Linked DNA regions of Homo sapiens: all the other regions are linked to region 1. Evidence: fine-mapped expression QTL. A gene starts in region 1. Each other region holds a variant in brackets. All regions are shown on one strand. Distances are between the middles of the regions. Region 1 holds the start of SLC39A13-AS1 (SLC39A13 antisense RNA 1). Region 2 has its middle 8.9 kb from the start of PSMC3. Region 3 overlaps PTPRJ (protein tyrosine phosphatase receptor type J). Region 4 overlaps SLC39A13-AS1 (SLC39A13 antisense RNA 1). Region 5 overlaps SPI1 (Spi-1 proto-oncogene).

Region 1 (4,115 bases):
CCCCACTTGTAAAATGGAACTAATAATCCAGGTGCTCCCTGCACTGACCCCGCAGGGCTGCTCTGAGGGTTGAGCACAGGCCTGACCATGGCCCAAGCAGGGCTCTATTCACAGCTGTGGCACCGCCCTCAGCCCAGTGCCTGGCACAGAGCTGCTGGGTAACCATCTGGTAAGTGAATGGTTCCTGAGCATCCAGCTGGCAGCACCAGCCCCTGGGATGCTCGTTTCTAACAGATTCCCAGGGCCTTGGTCCACCCCTCTTAGGTGGGGGATAGGCACGTGCATTCTTAGCAGCTCCCTAGAGCTCTCCTGCGTGTTTTGTTACAACATGTTATTTGTGAACGGGCAGTACATGCTCATGGTACAAAAGGGTAGTCAGGACAAAGCTCCCACCCGTGCCCACATCCCCATCTCCTAGACCCCCTCCCCAGGGGCAGGCCCTGCTACCAGGTGCTCATAGCTTCCTGGGGAAGCCAGAGCCAGCCGCCCCTGGCTAGATAGCTCCTACAGGACCAAGGGGAGAAGTTCTATTCTATCCTCTCCCTCCATCTCAGACACTCTGTGACCTGGGGTCTCCTAAGAAGAGCAGCAGCATGCTTCCCACACCCTGGCCAGCCCTGGGCGCCACCGGAGAGTCACCTACCTTCTGAGCGCAGCATGGTCCCCATCTCTAGGGGAATGACAAGCAACGGGAAGACCCCACTGAGCCCCACCATGAGGGAACCCAGGAGGGAGCAGATCCAGGTGTCCAGCCGCTCTCCGCTCAGCAGAGCCCCCCAGGACTCGCTTTCCTTGTTGTCCAGGCGACAGGCCGTCGCAGTCCCCCGGCTCCGGAGGGCCGGCTGGGAACCCCCAGCCCTTTCCAAGAGCTCCAGGGCAAGGGCAGTGAGGAAGAGGAGCCTTGGGCCCGCCATGCCACAGCCAGGGCAGGGACATCCAGGCATGCCACGTACTGAAAAACACAAAAGGCCACCTATATGAGCTACAGCCTTGGCCGCACACCTGCTTAGGAAACGTGGCGCCTCCCTCCTCCCCGCAAGGGACCCTGGCATCCACCCTCCTGCTGTCCTTGCCAGAGCGTCTGAGCATCCAAATGCTGGGTGCACAGCAATGGGGCCCTGTGTCTCCACACCCTACTCCTGAGCACTGCGTATTTTTTCCTTCTGAGCAGCTCCAGACTGTGTCAGCACCTCCGCCTGAGGCTAAACTTTCCCTAATGACAGGGTGAGGCGCTGGCTGGCTCTCCTCAGCCACCGGCGGCACGGCCCGGCCCAGCTGGGTGTCTCTGGCTGCCAGGGGAGGCCCTGCCGCCCGCGACACCCCAGAGACTGAGGCACCCCTTCTAAGGGGATGGGGTGGATTCAGAGAGACATACGTGGGGAAACTGAGCAGATGAGCCAGGGCAAGACCATCCACGCTTCTTCCTAGGACATGAGACCAATGTCCCCAGGGCACTGAGGGCAACAGGAGATGGGGCTGATGAGGAAGGAGCCTTTAGCCAGGGGATGCCTCTCTCTTGTATAGCGCAGGCTTTAGAGCCCCCACGGTGAATTCTATGCTGCACTTTGAGCTGTCTAACTCTGGGCAAATCTCTGAAGCCCCCCCTCTGAGCCTCAGTGCCCTCATCTGCAGGACAGGGATCAATATCACCTGCCTCAGCTGTGAGGACGAGATAAGCCTGAAAGTGCAGGTGGATGTACCCGGCATGAGGAGGCGCAGAGGCCCTGCCTGTGCCAGGGAAGGCCTGGGGCTCCCTGCAGCAGGAATGTGCCCAGCCGGCCGATCACAGGATGTGGACGTGAGTCAACCAAGCGAGAAGTTCCATCTGGAAACTCGGGCATGAGGTTTAAATGTGGTCTGCTCTGCCTCAGGCTGGCTGTGACCTTGAGCTGGTGATGTCCCTGCCTCAGTTTCCTCACCTTCTGATGGAGATGGGAGGGGAAGAAAGCAGCTGCCTCTGGGTGGTGGCAGAGATGCCCATGTCTAGGACCTCCAGGCCTTAACTAATCAGGGGCACTGATGAAGCCAGCGGGGCTCCACTGGGGACCACAGGCAAGACTGGGCCAGGACGAGGCGGTCACGCAGAGGTGAGGGGACCACAGGCTAGCGGGAGGGAATACACGGAGAGTCCAAGGGGAGAGGAAAGTAGAGAGTGAGAGAGCTAGAGAGAGGCGGGTGGGACGCGGAGAGGACAGCGAGGGAGGGATGGGGCGTGGGGCGCGGAGCGATGGGGGAGAGGAGGCCGAAGCGGGCGAGCCTGACTCCCGGGTCCTGGGAGCCGGCCCAGGTCTGATGAGGACCAGTCGGACGGGGCGAGGGATCGGCCGGGTCCATCACGCCCGGGGCGCGGGCCCCGAGGGTCCTGCTGGCACTCACCGTGCGGCGGCGGCGGCGGCGATCCGGGCGGCCCCAGCCATCCAGCTGCGGTGCCGCGCCCCGCCCAGGCTCTGCCCCGCCCGGCCGCCCGGCCGCCCGGCCCCCGGCCCGGGGCCGCCCCCGGCGCGCGGCCACGTCACAAGGGGCCTGTCCGGAACCCGAGGCGCCGCGTGCCGCGGGGTCGGGGGGAGTGGCGGCGGGAGGGCGCTTCCGCCTCGCGGCGGTGGGGGACCCGGGTAGAGGGCGCACTTCCGTTTGGGCAGGGCTGCGGGCCGGAGGGGAGGGTCGGTCGGAAGTGAGAGAGCCACACGCACCGCGCTCAGCCAGGCTGGGCAGGGACGGAAGCGGCGGCTCTGCGGGGACCGCGATCGACCAGGCTGCGGGGCTTGCGGATCTGGCCGCCGCTTCCCGTCCAGGGCCGCAGTCTGCCCGTGGCCGCACGGGGGCGCGCCCGGCCGCCAGACCACGCCGCCCAGGTCGGGCTGGGAGGACTACTGTGCGCTCCTGCTCTGAGTCAGCCCGGCCTGGCTCCTCCATGAGCAAGGGAAAGGGGAAGTGCCTGCCGCAGGGAGGGGCCTGGCCCCGGGAACCTCAGAAGAGGGAATTTTATTCTTACTCATCGAATTATTTTTATGCTTTGGTTTTTCACTGGGAACCTCAGGCCACTGTCTCCAGGGCTTGTAACCCTTTGGGGTCCAATGCATGGTGGCTGGACCCTGCTGATGGGAACTCCAAACCTGGGAGGCGAGGGCTCTGTGCTTCCCTCACCTGGAGGAAGCTAGACCTGACCTCTTTGGTTAGACTAAGGCAGCAAACACTGGATAGCAGTTCTTATAACCGCAATTTACTGACCACCTACTATGTGCTATTCACTTTACTCGCACTATCTCACTGAATCCTCATATTATCCCATTGTGGTGGGTACTGTTAGCCCAGGGTCACACAGTGGCACAGATGGCAGAGCCAGGATTCAAACCTGGGTGTCCTGAAGCCAGAGTATGTGATACCACTTCTCACGTCTAGGTCCTGAACAGCAGTGGGAGTCTGGCTTGGCGTTTCGAGTTTGTATTCTTCTCTGGAAATCAGCCAGTACAGGAGAAGATTCAGGAAGGGGCATGTGGGTACTCACTTGGGCAGAGATAGCGACTGAGTACAGGTCTCTTAAGTCTCTGACCCTCATCAGCCTCCCATGGCAGCTCCAACCATTTACTCTGTCACTTTCCCCTCTGCTGGGGCTCTTGAGAGCACACTCAGCTCTCAGGGCTGCCTCTGGTGCCTGTCCCACTTCATGTTGCACTGTTGGCCTTCCTTAGACCGCCAACTTCTCCCTGGTGGCCCAGCTTGTCTTCTGAAGCTTTCTGTCCATCTCACCCCACCGGGCCCATACAACTGCCAGGACGTTCTGTTCCCTCCCTGAGTTCCAAAATGGAATCCCTGGGTTAGTTTCTTGGCAAAGAAAAGCTACTCAGGGATCCTGCCCTAGGACTTCTAAAATGCCCCCCTCCCTGTATGCAAAAGCGCTCCATCTTATGCAAAGCACTTCACAATATGCAAATGATTTCACAATAACACAGTCAGCATTCCTGCCTCTGGAGGCTGAGCGCTCCTGGCCACCCAACAAGGGGATGGGCAAGACCCAGCCAGAAACGTTACTTGGTGCCAATGCACTACCCTTTCCTCCCACCTGGCCTGGAATTCCCATCGGATACCTAAGGCCCGGTGGCTCACATCTGTAATCC
Region 2 (4,115 bases), 26 kb before region 1:
CTGGGAAGTCCAAGATCAAGGCACCTGCAGATTGGGTGTCTGGTGAGGGCGCACATTCTTGCTCACAGATTGAGTTTTCTTGCTGTGTTCTTGCATGGTGGAAGGGACAAGGAAGTTCTCTGCATTCCTTTTTTTTTTTTCTTTTTGAGACAGGGTCTCACTCTGTCGCCCAGGCTGGAGTGCAGTGGTGAGATCTCAGCTCACTGCAACCTCCGCCTCCCGGGTTCAAGCAGTTCTCCTGCCTCAGCCTCCTGAGTAGCTGGGATTACAGACACGCATCAACATGCCTGGCTAATTTTTCTATTTTTAGTAGAGACAGGGTTTCTCCAAGTTGGCCAGGCTGGTCTCTAACTCCTGACCTCAAAAGATCCACCTGTCTTGGCCTCCCAAAGTGCTGGGATTACAGGCGAGAACAACCATGCCAGGCACAGTCCCTTAATAAGGGCACTAATCCCATATATAAGGGCTCCACCCTCATGACCTAATTGCCTCCCAAAGGCCTCACCTGCCTAATGACAGTCCTAGCAGGCTCATATAATGTGATAAGTTCTTTGTAACAATAAAGAGTAGAGCCTGGTTGTGTGCAGTGGTTCCTGCTTGTAATTCCAGCACTTTGGGAGGCCGAGGTGGGTGGGTCACTTGAACCCAGGAGTTCAAGACCAGCCTGTACAACATGGCAAAACCCTGTCTCTAGAAAAAAAAAAATACAAAAATTAGTCAGCATGGTGGCACACACCTGTAGTCCCAGCTACTCGGGAGGATGAAGCAGGAGAATCTCTTGAACCTGGGAGGCAGAGGTTGCAGTGAGCCAAGATCATACTACTGCACTTCAGCCTGGGGGACAGAGCAATACTCTGTCTCAAAAAAAAAAAAATAAGAGTAGAGGCCTGGCGCAGTGGCTCACACCTGTAATCCCAGCACTCTGGGAGGCAGAGGGGAGGTTGGATCACCTGAGGTCAGGAGTTCGAGACCAGCCTGACCAACATGGTGAAACCCCGTCTCTACTAAAAATACAAACATTAGCTGGGCGCGGTGGTGGGCGCCTGTAATCCCAGCTCCTCCGGAGGCTGAAGCAGGAGAATCGCTTGATCCTGGGAGGTGGCAGTTGTGGTGGGCTGAGATTGTGCCATTGCACTCCAGCCTGGGCAACAGAGCGAGACTCCATCTCAAAAAAGAAAAAAGAGTAGAGCCTGGTCCCTCTTCCTCATGTTCACCCCCTTCCCTAAACCAGTTCTAAAACCATTAAGTGGGACAGAGCAAGACAAGCATCTGTGTGGAGGGGTGACCTGGTGTGAGGCACTGGAATCTAAGCAGGCTGAAGAGTGTCCACACAGGGCAAGGCCTGGGGTGAGAGGTCAGAACCTGTGTGGAGAGAGGACAGAATCCACACATGGGGTTGGGTTGTTTTGAAGTGTCAGAGACCAAGCCCAAGGAGGGGCAGCCTGGCGTGGGCCATTGGGACCTCACCAGAGTAAGGAGGCATCCAAATTGGTGAAGGTTTGTGTGAGGCATCAGAGCTTGAGTAGAGCGAATAGGCCATGCACATGATTTGGGGCATCCTGGCAGGGGGCATTAGGTCAAGGATGGAGTGAAGAGGGTTCTGTGTGTGGAAGGGAGTGGCAGTGGAACACTGGGTACACAGAGGGGGTTGATCAAACAAGTAAGTAGGTCAGGTGCGGTGGCTCACAGTCTATAATCCCAGCACTCTGGGAAGCCGAGGCAAGTGGATCACTTGAGGTCAGGAGTTCGAAAGCAGCCTGGCCAACATGGTGAAACCCCATCTCTACTAAAAATACAAAAAAAAATTAGCCTGGCGTGGTGGCAGGCGCCTGTAGTCCCAGCTACTCAGGAGGCTGAGGCAGGAGAATGGCGTGAACCAAGGAAGCAGAGCTTGCAGTGAGCCGAAATCCTGCCACTGCACTCCAGCCTGGGTGACAGAGCAAGACTCTGTCTCAAAAAAAAAAAAAAAAAAAA[AT/T]TAGCTGGGCGTGGTGGTGCACACTTGTAATCCCAGCTACTTGGAGGCTGAGGCAGGAGAATCCCTTGAGCCCAGGAGGTGGAGGTTGCAGTGAGCTGAGAGCACACCACTGCACTCCAGCCTGGGCAACAAGAGTGAGACTCCATCTCAAAAAAAAAAAAAAAAAAAGTAGGTAGATTAAGGACAGTGGAAGGCAGCTTTCTCACTTTTTTTTTTTTTTAGATGGAGTCTTGCTTTGTCACCCAAGCTGGAGTGCAATGCCTCCATCTTGGCTCACTGCAACCTCTGCCTCCTGGGTTGAAGCAATTCTCCTGCCTCAGCCTCCTGAGTAACTGGGACTACAGGCATGTGCCACCATGCCGGCTAATTTTTTGCATTTTTAGTAGAGACAGGTTTTCACTGTGTTAGCCAGGATGGTCTCGATCTCCTGACCCCATGATCCGCCTGCCTCAGCCTCCCAAAGTGCTGAGATTACAGGTGTGAGCCACCGTGCCTGGCCGCTTTCTCACTATTGATGGAGAGAATTACAAATATGGAAAGGGAGAGAACCAGAGTGGACCCTGTGGCGCTGAATTAGAATTGTAAGAATCAGTGTGAACTCATGGATTTCAAAATATACGGGTAGATCTAGAAATAAATATAGTTATAAATGTGCGTGTCCACCAGCCTGGGCGCAGTGATATGCCAACAGCAATGAGCTCACCCAGCAGCCAGGGCTTGGCTTTGAAACACCATGTTTCACAAAAAGGAACCAAGGCTCTTTGGTCAAGGGCCTGATTCCAGGGCTGGGTCATAGAGAGTACAAGATGAGCCAGAGCTATTTTGTGCCAGAAAGCAAGGGAAGTTGAAAGAATAATGAGGAAAACTCAAAGGCCACAGGAGCCAGCTTGGATGGGCTCCCAGCAGCCACTGATAATGAGTAACAGTGAATGTCGCAGCTCAGGCTGCCATAACAAGGCACCTTAGGATGAGAAGCTTAAACAACTAAAACTTACAGTTCTAGAGACAGGACATCCAAGATCGAGGTGCCAGAAAATTCAAGAAGCCTCTCCTCCTGACTTGCCCTTCTCTCTGTGTTCTTACAAGACTTTCCCCCCATGCTGCTGTGGTGACAGCAAGATTGAGCCCTCTCTCTCTCTCTTTTTATGTATTTATTTATTTTTGAGACAGAGTCTCGCTCTGTTGCCCAGGCTAGAGTGCAGTGGCATGGTCTTGGCTCACTGCCTCAGCCTCCCAAGTAGCCAGGATTACAGGTATGTGCCACTATGCCTGCCTAATTTTTGTATTTTTAGTAGAGATAGGGTTTCACCATGTTGGTCAGGCTGGTCATGAAGTCCTGGACTCAAGCAATCCACCTGCCTCAGCCTCCCAAAATGCTGGGATTACAGGCACGTGTCACCACACCCGGCTAATTTTTGTATTTTTAGTAGAGACAGAATTTGGCCATGTTGGCCAGGCTGGTCTCGAACACCTGACCTCAGGTGATCTGCCCCCCACCCCCTAGTCTCTTTCCCTCCCTCCCTCTGTCTTCCTCTTCCTATAAAGGCACTAATTGTCTGGGTGTGGTGGCTCACGCCTGTAACTCCAGTAGTTTGGGAGGCGGAGGCAGGCAAATCACTTGAGGTCAGGAGTTCGAGACCAGCCTGGGCAACACGGCAAAACCCTGTCTCTACTAAAAATACAAAAATTAGCCACATGTGGTGGTGCACATCTGTAATCCCAACTACTTGGGAGGCTGAGGTGGGAGTATCACTTAAGCCCAGGAGGCAGAGGCTGCAAAGAGCTGAGATGGCACCACTGCACTCCAGCCTGGGCCAGAGTGAGACCCTGTGAAAAAAAAAAAACGAAACAGGCTGGGCCTCATTGAGAAGGTGGCATGTGAGTGAAACCTTAAAGGAGGTGAGAGATTGAACTAAGCAGATTTCCTGGAAAGAGCATTCTCCTAGAGAACAGAATCCTAAGACAGGAGCTTGCCTGATGTGCTCAGGAGCAGCAGGGAGGCCTGTAAGTGAGCAGGAGGGAAGGAGGAGGAGTGGAGGCCAGGAGGAGAGTGTGGTGTGAACACATGCAGGACTTGGGAAGGACTTTGGCTCCTGCTCTGGCGAGTCGGGCACCTGCTGAGGATTTTGAGCAGAGGAGT
Region 3 (4,115 bases), 620 kb before region 1:
AGGGGTCCTAACTTGTAGCTTTAACCTCTTTCTCCACTACGGATCTAAACAAAGGCTGCAAACTGGTGGGCTACAGGCTGAATCAGGCTTGCAGACGTGTTTGATTCACCCACACAAGGTTTTTTGTTTGTTTGTTTGCTTTTGAGACGGAGTTTCACTCTTGTTGCCCAGGCTGGAGTGCAGTGGCACAATCTCTGCTTACTGCAACCTCTGCCTCCTGGGTTCAAGCAATTCTCCTGCCTCAGCCTCCTAAGTAGCTGGGATTATGGGTGCCCGCCACCACACCTGGCTAATTTTTGTATTTTTAGTAGAGACGGGGTTTCACCACGTTGGCCAGGCTGGTCTCAAACTCCTGACCTCAGGTGAGCCACCCACCTCAGCCTCCCAAAGTGCTGGGATTACAGGTGTGAGCCACCACGCCCAGCAGCTTAACCTTTTGTTAAGGATTCTGGGCTGGGCTGTGGCCAGTCTACTCTCCTACCACAGAAGAGTAAAATGCCCTGCACCCAGCCCACACAAGGTTTTAAAACAAATCTAAGCCTACTTTAGCAGTGATGAGATTTCCCATGAAATGCCAAGATTTCCAGATTTCATGAAGAACTGCATGATGGGCTACCTTGGGTCCACATTCTCAGGCTGCCCATGAGGAGAGAGGACAGTGTGGATTAGGGGGACAGGTAGTGCTCTGCAAGCCATGTCACTCTTCAGTCCTATATCTCCACTGTCAGAGAAACGTCTTTCAGTGTCCATGCCTCTGTGAAAAGCACAAAACAGAACAACAAACCAAGACGGCCTTATGTTTCAAGAAAGGTGAGACCACTTATGGCTCAGTAGTAGCTAAGATGTTTCCTTTATCTCTAATATGCAAGCCCCATGCAACTGGGAAGAAATACTATTAACACTGGATGCCTTTTTCTTTCACTAGAGGAGCCTCCTTCACTTCCACTCACTGCCTGGACCCTGGAAGCATCTGGACCCTGGAAGCATCTGGACCCTGGATGCAGGCAAACTTGGGACCTAAGAGCTCTCCGAAGCAGTTTTGTGGGGAAAAAGAAACAAACCTGACAATACTGCAGCCTTCCCTGGAGAGCAGACAGGCCCTGCACTGAAGATTTTTTTTTTTTTTTTTTTTTTTTTTTTTTTGGAGACAGAGTCTCACTCTGTTGCCCAGGCCAGAGTGCAGTGGCATGATCTCTGCTCACTGCACCTCCACCTGCCAGGTTCAAACAATTCTCCCGCCTCAGCCTCCTGAGCAGCTGGAACTACAGGCATGTGCCACCATGCCCAGCTAATTTTTTGTATTTTTAGTAGAGACAGGGTTTCATCACACTGGCCGGGCTGGTCTCGAACTCCTGACCTCAGGTGATCCACCTGCCTCAGCCTCCCAAAGTGCTGGGATTACAGGCGTGAGTCACTGCACCCAGACGACACTGAAGTTTTATTGTGTTGGGGAACAGGGAGGGGATTCAGTTCCACCTTATTAGCAACAATACGGAGATTCTAGCCCCATCCATATCAGGACCAAGTTGTTCATCTTGCATGATGGCCCTCCCTTTTATGGGAAGACTCTATATCCTGGGTTCTTACCCATCCTCAGCCCTTTCTGGCTATATTTTAAGGGTATTCCGGGCCGGGCGCGGTGGCTCATGCCTGTAATCCCAGCACTTTGGGAGGCCGAGGCATGCGGATGACAAGGTCAGGAGATCAAGACCATCCTGGCTAACACGGTGAAACCCCATCTCTATTAAAAATACAAAAAAAAATTAGCTGGGCGCGGTGGCAGGTGCTTGCAGTCCCAGCTACCCTGGAGGCTGAGGCAGGAGAATGGCGTGAACCTGGGAGGCAGAGCTTGCAGTGAGCTGAGATCGCGCCACTGCAATCCAGCCTGGGCAACAAAGCGAGACGCCGTCTCAAAAAAAAAAAAAAAAAAAAAAAAA[AG/G]GGTATTCCAAGACCCATCCAAATCAGGCCATTGTCATGGAGCCTTATTTCAAACCTTGAAAAGGGCCCTTTAAAAAGCCTTCCCTCTCATGCAAAGGCATTAAGAATGACACAGTGGACTTCGGGGACTCAGAGGGAAAGGGTGGGAAGCAGGTGAGGGATAAAAGGCCACAAATTGGGTTCAGTGTATACTGCTCAGGTGATGGGTGCACCAAAATCTCACAAATCACCACTAAAGAACCTACTCATGGCCAGGCACGGTGGCTCACACCTGTAATCCCAGCACTTTGGGAGGCTAAGGCAGGCGGATCACAAGGTCAGGAGATGGAGACCATCCTGGCTAACACAGTGAAACCCTATGTCTACTAAAAATACAAAAATTAGCTGGGCATGGTGGCGGGCGCCTGTAATCCCAGCTACTTGGGAGGCAGAGGTTGCGGTGAGCCAAGATCGCACCATTGCACTCCAGCCTGGGCAATAAGAGCGAAACTCCGTCTCAAAAAAAAAAAAAAAGTCCTAACATTCAAGTCAAGCCCCAGTGAGGCTCATGGCCACAGCAGGAAGACAGCAGGATACTGCCTTTCCAAGTCAGAGATAGGGTTTTAGGTATTGCCTTGGGCTGAAAGAGAGCTGGATCCAGCTTTACCTGCTCCTCTCACACCCTCTGTTCCAGCCAACTGCCCCTTTCCCAGGCTTACCAAAGACCTTAAGCACCTTCCTCATGAGAATCAGTTTTCCATACTCTACCATCAAGTGTCTAAGTCACTAAGCCTCTGTTGACTGTTGCCCTGAGCCAAATGCTGTGGACACAGTAAGTAAGACTCGAACCTTCCACAATGACCTCATCATCTACCAAGGAAGACAGACCTTTCTCAACAGCTATGTCATAAGGGCTGTGGTGGAGATGCAGGGTGAGTGCTATAGAAGCTGAAAGATGTGATTTATTCCAAATTTACAGAGTCGGGAGGGTAGCCGACTTCAGGGAGAATGTGCCTTTTGTCCAGAGCCTTTTGAAGGATGAGTGGGGAGTGGGATTTCCATAATTGGGGGGATGAGCATTCCAGGAAGAGGAGCAGCATGAGCAAATCAGAGAGGGAAGAAAGTGCAGCATGTCTTGGGAACACCCGGCTGTCTGAGGCAGATGCAGCCTGGGCAGTCTGGAGGGATTCAGGGGGAGGGAACACTGGACTGCTAAGCTGAGGCCACACATAGGAGCTGACGCGCCATTTAGAGCGCCTAAAGGGCACTTGTAAGGAAGGTATGGAAGACCTTGAATGCCAGACAGGGAAATTTGGACTTAAGCTGTAGGGAGCAGTGGAGAGTCCTTGGAGGTGCAGGAAGGGAAGGAGACAAGGAACAGAAGGCTTTCTGGTGGGCAAAGAACTTGACCTTCGCCTCCTTGATACCAACTTTTGGCACCTGCTCTGCCTGCTCTGCATGTCATGTTCATTTCTGTGGCAATTCCGGTATCTGACCATCTGGATGGTGACTAACACCCACCTATTCTGACCCTATGGCAGGTGTTATGTCCCCTGGTGGCCTCCGGCATACACCAGCCCTGCCTACTGCTCAGAGGCCAGCAGGCATGATTTTATAGTTGAATTGGTTGCCAACTTTTAAAAATTAGGGGACATCACTTAACCTGGGTTTTCTGGGGCTGTACTTTCACATCGCAAGAAGCCGACTGGCAGCTGCTCCCTTTGGGTAGAACATGTAACCTCCAGTTTCCAATGGGGGCACCTCTTTTTAATCTCTAGGACTGAGAATAAACAGCAACTGCCCATTTATCATTTCACCAGGCTGCCCGAAAGGCCTCTGAGTTTGCAAGCCACAGCCACATTTAGCTTAGATGTATGCCCCCCCTAGATTCCAGGTCCCTCCAGGCCCAGGTGCTAACCCCTTTCCCAGATCCCATAGCCTGCCCACAAGATCCAGCACCCCACTTATTCCCATATACTCTCAGGCCTGCCAGATGGCACTGCTGAAAGAAATGAGAAGGCCCCTTAGGGGATTAGGCAGCAAGCCTAGAAGAAATTTAATATACCTTTACTTTCCCTTCTATCACCCGAGAGCTCTGTAAACGCGACTGTTCCTGATTCCCTACTGTGTGGCAGGCCTTCTAAGCACAGCTCAAGAAATGCAGCTGAATGAGACAGGATCCCTGCCTTTGCTAGGCC
Region 4 (4,115 bases), 26 kb after region 1:
TTCTGGGGTTCTGGCAATGTTTTTTTGTTGTTTTGTTTTGTTTTTTTTTTTGAGATGGAGTCTTGCCCTGTCACCCAGGCTGGAGTGCAGTGGCGCGATCTCGGCTCACTGCAATCTCTTCCTCCCAGGTTCACGTCATTCTCCTGCCTCAGCCTCCCAAGTAGCTGGGACTACAGGCACCCGCCACCACGCCCGGCTAATTTTTTTTTGTATTTTTAGTACAGATGGGGTTTCACCGTGTTAGCCAGGATGGTCTCGATCGCCTGACCTCGTGATCTGCCCACCTCAGCCTCCCAAAGTGCTGGGATTACAGGCGTGAGCCACCGCGCCCGGCCTTTCTGGCAACTTTTTTATTTCTTTACCTGGATGGTGGTTACATAGATGTCAGCTTTATAATTATCTTTTTTTTTTTTTTTTGGAGACGGAGTCTTGCTCTGTCGCCCAGGCTGGAGTGCAGTGGCGCGATCTCGGCTCACTGCAAGCTCTGCCTCCCGGGTTCACACCATTCTCCTACCTTAGCCTCCCGAGTAGTTGGGACTACAGACCGTGCCACCATGCCTGGCTAATTTTTTTTTTTGTATTTTTAGTAGAGACGGGGTTTCACCGTGTTAGCCAGGATGGTCTCAATCTCCTGACTTGGTGATCTGCCTGCCTCGGCCTCCCAAAGTGATGGCATTACAGGCATGAGCCACTGCACCCGGCTGCTTTATAATTATTCTTTAAACTGCACATAAATATTGTATTTACTCTTCTAAATGAACGATGTCTCTCATGACTTAAAAATATCCTGGTAAATCCAAATAGTGGAATACTATACGGCCATTAAAAAGACACTACAGTCAACACTAATTTATAGTGTATTTAAAAATAACTAAAAGAATATAATTGGAATGTTGGTAACACAAGGAAATGAAAAATGCTTGAGGTGGTGGATACCCCATTTACTGATGTGATTATTACACAATTTATGCCTGTATCAAAATATCTCATGTACCCCATAAATAAACACACCTACTATGTACCCACAAAAACTATAAATGGAAAAAACTCAGAAGGACAAGACAGTGCTACATGGGTGTGACATGTATATTGGGGAAAAAAAACAAGGGAACTACAATATGTTTAATGTGCCCCCCTCTGTGTAAAAAATTTTTTTCTTTCCTTTTTTTTTTTTGAGACGGAGTCTCGCTCTAACGCCCAGGCTGGAGTGCAGTGGCACGATCTCGGCTCACTGCAAGCTCCGCCTCCCGGGTTCACACCATTCTCCTGCCTCAGCCTCCCGAGTAGCTGGGACTACAGGCGCCCGCCACCACGCCCGGCTAATTTTTTGTATTTTTTTTTTAGTAGAGATGGGGTTTCACCGTGTTAGCCAGGATGGTCTCAATCTCCTGACCTCGTGATCCACCCCCCTTGGCCTCCCAAAATGCTGGGATTACAGGCGTGAGCCACCACGCCCGGCCCCCTCTGTGTAAAATTTTTAAAAATATATCTGCTACACGCTGTGTAGATGATTTCTAGACCAAAACACAAGATCAGGTAACAAGTGGGCTAGTCTGTGGAAGGGGAACTGGGCAGTTGTTTACCTTTTTTGTACCTTTTGAATTTTGTACCATGTGCACATGTTATCTATTCAAAAAATAAAATAATTAAAAATGATGTTTTTGTTTTTCAGTCCCTAGAGCGTCCAAGATTTTTGGTTTCAAACCAATTTCCTGCTGACCAGAATGAAATGGAGCCACATTCCAGCACGATGCACCTGCTGACCTCCTGCAAGTCAGGGACCTTCTCTGCCCCTCTTTTGCTCTGCTGCAGGAGGGAGAAGCTGGGAATGTGTTCCTCTGGGGTCCCATCACCTCCAGCCAGCCACTGTCCCTGTCTCCCCAAAACCTCCTCGTTGTCCCTCCTCTGTCCTCCTCCTCCTCC[ATCTG/G]CCTTCGCCCTGCTCTCCTCTTTTTCGCCTGAGGTTCGTGCTGCCTCCTCACCTCTTGTCCTGTTTCTCCCTTCTCTCTGCTCCCTCCTTTGATCTTGCTATTTTGCTTCTCTTTCCCTTCCTCTCTTCTCCTCCCTCCCCTTCCTCCCTGCTCCCTGCCTCAGCTTCTCAGTCTCTCTCCGTTCTTCCTCTAGCTTCCTTCCCTCCCCAGAAGACCCAGCCCTTCCTAGAGCCCCAGAAGCCAGGGTTCATGCCCCAGCTCTCTACCCACACATGCTGTGCAACCCTGGGCCAGTCACTGGTCTCTTGGGCCTCAGTTCAACAGATGGCTGTCTTGGTGATGTGAGATCATAGGGTGGAAGCACCCAGAATGGTGCCAGGCACTCAAAAATTTTTTTCTTTTCCTTTTTAAGGAACTACTAACCGTGAGGTTATGGATTACCAAACCGTTCCTGTTCTTGGAATCTGGGTCCTACTATTCCCAAGAATTTGAATTACCACGGGTCCCTGGGGATGTAAGGGGATGAGGCTTCTGATGTACTTTGGGAGGGGGAGGAGTGGAAAGAGGAGTTGGGAGGACACTCTAGCATTGCCCAGAGGGCAGAGGACATTCTGCCTATTTCCAGAGGTTATTGACCCTGGATCTCTTTTATGGAGTTCCTCACCCAGGCCCCTTGAGCTTGGCCATACTTGAGGCAATGGGATATCTTCCTTCTCCTGGAGCCCCTTGAATCTTAGGCCTCGGGAACACACAGTCTACTGTGTTTCTTGGCTGCACCCACGGAGGACAGCCCCCATACTCCTTGCTTACAACCAGCAAAGACTCCACAGCCATCCCTGCACACGACTCAGGCTCCTTGGCTTGGCACTCAAGGCTCTTTGCTTTCCTGTCCTGCTTTGCTTCCAGCTGCAAAGATGGTGGCTTCCTGTTTTCCTCTTCGTTTCCTTTGCTTAAGTTGATTCTCAGCCAGACATGCTTTCCCCCTGCACGCTTCCCTAAGCCATCCTATCTGGGACCCTGACCCAATCAATGGTTCCCTAATGCACCTTTGAGACCAAGTGTACCTGGCACCTCCTCTCTTGCCCCACTATCTGCTCACATGACCCTCTGCAGGCCTGTAAGCTGCTGGAGGCTCCGAGTATGCCTCATTCATGTCTATCCCCCTTACTAGGCCCAGACCATGGAAGACACTCAATAAAAAGTAAGTGATTAAATGACAACCTCTACGGAAAAGAGTATGGAGATTTCTCAAAGAACTAAAAACAGAACTACCTTTTGGCCAGATGCAGTGGCTCACACCTATAATCCCAACATTTGGGAAGGCTGAGGCAGGTGGATTGCTTGAGCCCAGGAGTTCAAGATCAGCCTGGGCAACATGGTGAAACCCTATCTCTACAAAAAATACAGAAAATTAGATGAGACTACAGGTGGCACACATCCATAGTACCAGCTACTCCAGAGGCTGAGGCGGGAGGATCGCTTGAGCCCAGGAGGTCCAGGCTACAGTGGGCCAAGATCACGCCATTGCACTCCAGCCTCAGTGATAAAGTGGCATTCTGTCTCAAAAGAAAAAGAACTGGCCAAGCATGGTGGCTCACGTCTGTAATCCCAGCACTTTGGGAGGCCGAGGCAGGTGGATCACATGAGATCAGGAGTTTGAGACTAGCCTGGCCAACAATGATGAAACCCCATCTCTACTAAAAATACAATAATTAGCTGGGCGTGGTGGCGGGCGCCTGTAATCCCAGCTACTCAGGAGGCTGAGGCAGGAGAATCATTTGAACCCGGGAGGCAAAGTGAGCCAAGATTGTGCCACTGCACTCCAGCCTGGGCAACAAGAGCGAAACTCAGTCTCAAAAGAAAAAGAAAAAGAGAGAAAAGAAGAAAGGAAAAGAAATATCATTTGATCCAGCAATCTCACTGAGTATCTAACCAAAGGAAAATAAATCACTATACCAAAAAGATACTGCATTTTTATGTTTATCACAGCACTATTCATAATAGCAAAGACACAGAATCAACCTAAGTGTCCATCAACGGATGAGTGAATAAATAAAATGTTATATTTTTATATATATATATATATATAATGAAATACTATTCAGCCATAAAAAAGAATGAAATTATGTCTTTGCAGCAACATGGATGGAATTGGAGGCCATTATCATAAGCGAAACAATGCAGAAA
Region 5 (4,115 bases), 50 kb after region 1:
CTCCGCCTCCTGGGTTCACACCATTCTCCTGCCTCAGCCTCCTGAGTAGCTGGGACTACAGGCACCCGCCACCACGCCCAGCTAATTTTTTTGTATTTTACTAGAGACGGGGTTTCACTGTGTTAGCCAGGATGGTCTTGATCTCCTGACCTCGTTATCCACCCACCTCGGCCTCCCAAAGTGCTGGGATTACAGGCGTGAGCCACTGCGCCCGGCCGAGTTTTTTTTTTTTTGAGGCAGAGTCTCACTCTGTCGCCAGGCTGGAGTGCAGTGGCGCAATCTCGGCTCACTGCTACCTCCACCTCTCGGGTTCAAGCGATTCTCCTGCCTCAGCCTCCTGAGTAGCTGGGATTACGGCACCTACCACCACGCCCAGCTAATATTTTGTATTTTAGTAGAGATGGGATTTCACCACGTTGGCCAGGATGGTCTCAATCTCCTGACCTCATGATCCGCCCGCCTCCGCCTCCCAAAATGCTGGGTTTACAGGCGTGAGCCACCGCGCGCGGCCCTGGCTGGGAGGTTTTAACAGGATAGGAGGGGAATCAACTTTCCCTGAGGGCCGGCTCTGGTGCGAGGTGTTTTACAAATGTGTACTCATTCGTATCTTCCCAATAACTGTGATCCCCATTTTACAGGCAACTCAACTGAGGTTAGAGAGGCCACATATGTGCCTGAGGTCACACAGCAAGTAAATGGCAGAGCCAGGATTAGACGCTCGGTCTGTGTGACTGCACAGGAATCAGGATGGAATTGCTGAGAACACGAGCTTTGCTTCAGCCCTGAGTCCTGGCTGTGACCCGGATGCTTTTGACCTTGGGCATGCTATGTAGCCGCTCGAAGCCTCAGTGTCCTCATCTATAAAATGCAGGCCTAGAGTAACCATGCAGGTGGCGAGGGTTAAACGAGATGGTTAGGCCCCATATGGCCTGGCAGTATTATTTAATGTTACTATAACCTTTTCCTGCCCTGCCCAACCCTGAGCTCACCCCATACTGCCTGGCTGTCCCCCACAGACCATTACTGGGACTTCCACCCCCACCACGTGCACAGCGAGTTCGAGAGCTTCGCCGAGAACAACTTCACGGAGCTCCAGAGCGTGCAGCCCCCGCAGCTGCAGCAGCTCTACCGCCACATGGAGCTGGAGCAGATGCACGTCCTCGATACCCCCATGGTGCCACCCCATCCCAGTCTTGGCCACCAGGTGCATGCCACCGCCTGCCCCGTCCCCCAGGAGACTGCCAGGCCTGTGGTGGGGCCCGGGAGCTTCACAGGAAGCTGACACAGGCTCTTACCCAACTCAGCTTCCTGCCCCACAGTGCCAACGGCGGCTGGAGCTCCAACGGCTGCCGCCTGACCCCCCAAGTGACCTCATGACCCCACACCCCTTATCTCATCTCACCCCGAGTATGGACAGACCCCAGATAATTCTCGCACCCTCACCAAGCCTCCCCATCCCAACGCCTTGTTGTGGGCCCTCCTGGGCCTCACTGTCTGCCACCCCCATTCACTAGCCCTCATGGATCCCACACCAAGTCACTGAACACCTCTACTGACCCTGCCTCTCCCCAGTGACCCTCCCTACTGACCCTAACCCGGATCAGTGACCTCTGCTGACCTCTACCACCCCTACTGACCTCCAGGGTCCCTCCACTCACTCATCATCCCACCTATGAAACCCCCTTCCAGACCCAACGCACCGGTCCCTAGCATGCCCTCTTCTGACCCCAGCCTAATGCGGGTCCACACAGCACCGCTGCAGGGAGGAGAACAAGGCACCACTTCCCCGGTGCCCACAGTCCTAAACCAGGAGGCCCAGCTGGGAGGGCTGGGTGGGCTGGATGTCAGCACCCCTCGCCCCACAGCCTGCACCCTATGTGCAGCACCTCAACTGGCCCCCCTTTTCCCTGGTCTTCTTCCTCCAGTCTCCTGTGCCTGCCATTGTCCCCTGCCCTCTGCACTCCTTCTCTCCCCAGCTGACCTCCCTCCCAGCCCCCCTGAGCTGTAAGCTGGCCCTTCCTGACTCTGATCTCCTTCCCCCACCGTCCAGGTCTCCTACCTGCCCCGGATGTGCCTCCAGTACCCATCCCTGTCCCCAGCCCAGCCCAGCTCAGATGAGGAGGAGGGCGAGCGGCAGAGCCCCCCACTGGAGGTGTCTGACGGCGAGGCGGATGGCCTGGAGCCCGGGCCTGGGCTCCTGCCTGGGGAGACAGGTGGGGCACCTGGCCCTCCACCCTGGCCCCGACCCTGGCCGTGTCTGTGCCCTG[C/A]CCCCACCCAGCCAGGCCAACTGACCCAGCAGCCACGCCACCGAGTCGCGTGTGTGTGTGTGTGCATGTTTGCCAGTGTGTGTGTTTTGTGGGGCTGTCTGTGGCTGTCTCTGTGTGTGTGTATCTGCTGTGTAGTGCATACGGGCATCTCCATGAAGTGTGCCAGGTGTGTGTGTCTCTCTGTGCCATGAGTGTGTGTACATCTGGGTGTGTGTGAGCAAGTGTGCAGAGGGTGCGTGTGCACAGGTACGGGCAGGTGCATGTGTGCGAGTGGCTGTGTGAGTGGGTGTGTGAGAAGGTGAATGTGAGAGCTGGTGTGGCTGAGAGTGGGTGTGGCCATGTTTGTGTGTCTGTCAACACATGAATGTATTTCAGTGCGTGTGAGCAGCTGTGCACGTATGATGTCAGTGGGTGTCAGCAGTGTGTGGGTGTGCCTGTGTGAGCAGGGATGTGAGCATGGTATATGTGAGTGGCTGTAAGCAGGCATGTGTGAGTGATATGTGTGAGTGGGGGTGTGACAGCAGGTGTGTGAGCAAGTGTATATGTGTGAATGTGTATGTAAGCAGGGATGTGTGTGATATAAGTGTGTGTGAATGGGCATAGGTGTGTGTCAGTGGATGTGTGAGTGGGTGTGAACATGTTTGAGGGTGTATGTAAGCAGGTGTGTGTGAGCAGGAAGGTGTGAGCTGGGGTGTGTGAGCATGTATGTGTATATGTGAGCAGGTCTGTGCATGTATGTGAGTGGATATGTGTTTTAACATGTGTAAGCATGTGTGTGTTCCCATGTGTGAGCAGGTGTGTGTGGGGGGTGAGGACGTGCTTAAGCACCTGCGTGTGTGAGCAGGTGTGCATGTGTGTGAACAGGTATGTGTATGTGTGAAAGCAGGTGTGTGAATGAGTGTGTGAGCATGAATGGGTGTGAGTGGGCCGGGCGTGGTGGCTCACGCCTGTATCCCAGCACTTTGGGAGGCTGAGGCAGGCGGATCACCTGAGGTCAGGTGTTCGAGACCAGCCTGGCCAACATGGCGAAACCCCGTCTCCACTAAAAATACAAAAATTAGTCAGGCGTGGTGGTGAACGCCTGTAATCCCAGCTACTTGGAAGGCTGAGACAGGAGAATTGCTTGAACCCGGGAGGTGGAGGTTGCAGTGAGCCGAGATCGTGCCATTGCACTCCAGCCTGGGCAACAAGAGCAACTCCATCTCAAAAACAAGAGAATGGGTGTGATGTGTGAGTGTGAGAGCAGGTGTGTGTGAGCATGCATGAGTGTGAGCTGCTGTGAGTGGATGTGAGAGCAGAATGTGTGTGAGCATTTGAGTGTGCAAGTAGGTGTCTGAGTGGTTGTGTGTGAACAGGCGTGTAAGCATGCAAGTGGATATGCATGAGCAGAATGTATGTGCATGCGTGAGCAGGTGTGAGGTGCAAGTGTAAGTGGTGTGAAATATGAGTGAGCAGGTGTCAATGAGGTGTGAAAGAGCTGGTGTGAGCGTGTGAGTGATAAGTGAGCAGCTGTGAGGTGTGAGCATGTATGTGAGCAGGTATGTGTGATGTGTGAGCATATGTGTGAGCATGTGTGTGTGCAGATATGTGTGGGCAGGTGTGTGTGAGTGGGTGTGAGATGTGAGCATGTGTGTGAGGTATGAGGTGTGAGCATGTGTGAGGTGTGAGCATGTGAGTGGGTGTGAATGTGTGAGGTGTTAGCATGTGTGAAGTGTTAGCATGTGTGTGAGCATGAGTTTGTAAGCATAAGTGTGTGTGAGACTTGGTGTGAGGTGTGTGAGGAAGTGTGTGTATGGATAGGTGAGCATGTGTGTGAGCAGACGTGAGCATGTGTGAGTGGGTGTGTGC

Evidence for each region.
Region 2: its variant is fine-mapped to the expression of SLC39A13-AS1 in whole blood (INTERVAL, PIP above 0.99).
Region 3: its variant is fine-mapped to the expression of SLC39A13-AS1 in whole blood (INTERVAL, PIP 0.95).
Region 4: its variant is fine-mapped to the expression of SLC39A13-AS1 in whole blood (INTERVAL, PIP above 0.99). The same link has a PIP of 0.9 or more in blood mononuclear cells.
Region 5: its variant is fine-mapped to the expression of SLC39A13-AS1 in whole blood (TOPMed, PIP above 0.99).

The regions. Positions count from the first base shown.
Region 1 is chr11:47,406,924-47,411,038 of GRCh38, reverse strand. SLC39A13-AS1 (SLC39A13 antisense RNA 1) reads left to right here and starts at 1,757. Exons shown (of 4, transcript NR_182308.1): 1 at 1,757-2,087. SLC39A13 (solute carrier family 39 member 13) reads right to left here and starts at 2,449. Exons shown (of 10, transcript NM_001128225.3): 1 at 2,377-2,449; 2 at 644-952. The coding sequence starts at 944. RefSeq lists enhancers at 325-1,189, 1,190-2,056, 2,345-3,167 and a silencer at 2,147-2,936.
Region 2 is chr11:47,433,278-47,437,392 of GRCh38, reverse strand. No RefSeq gene overlaps it. Among named protein-coding and RNA genes, the nearest start is that of PSMC3, 8.9 kb to the right of the region's middle. The variant AT/T (reference allele first, on the strand shown) is at 1,975.
Region 3 is chr11:48,024,820-48,028,934 of GRCh38, reverse strand. All of the region lies in intron 1 of PTPRJ (protein tyrosine phosphatase receptor type J), which reads right to left. Among named protein-coding and RNA genes, the nearest start is that of PTPRJ, 46 kb to the right of the region's middle. RefSeq lists an enhancer at 1-355. The variant AG/G (reference allele first, on the strand shown) is at 1,938.
Region 4 is chr11:47,381,390-47,385,504 of GRCh38, reverse strand. It overlaps SLC39A13-AS1 (SLC39A13 antisense RNA 1), which reads left to right. Exons shown (of 4, transcript NR_182308.1): 4 at 1,673-3,890. Among named protein-coding and RNA genes, the nearest start is that of SPI1, 4.9 kb to the right of the region's middle. The variant ATCTG/G (reference allele first, on the strand shown) is at 1,924.
Region 5 is chr11:47,356,942-47,361,056 of GRCh38, reverse strand. SPI1 (Spi-1 proto-oncogene) reads left to right here. Exons shown (of 5, transcript NM_003120.3): 3 at 1,017-1,204; 4 at 2,051-2,213. Among named protein-coding and RNA genes, the nearest start is that of MYBPC3, 6.3 kb to the right of the region's middle. The variant C/A (reference allele first, on the strand shown) is at 2,268.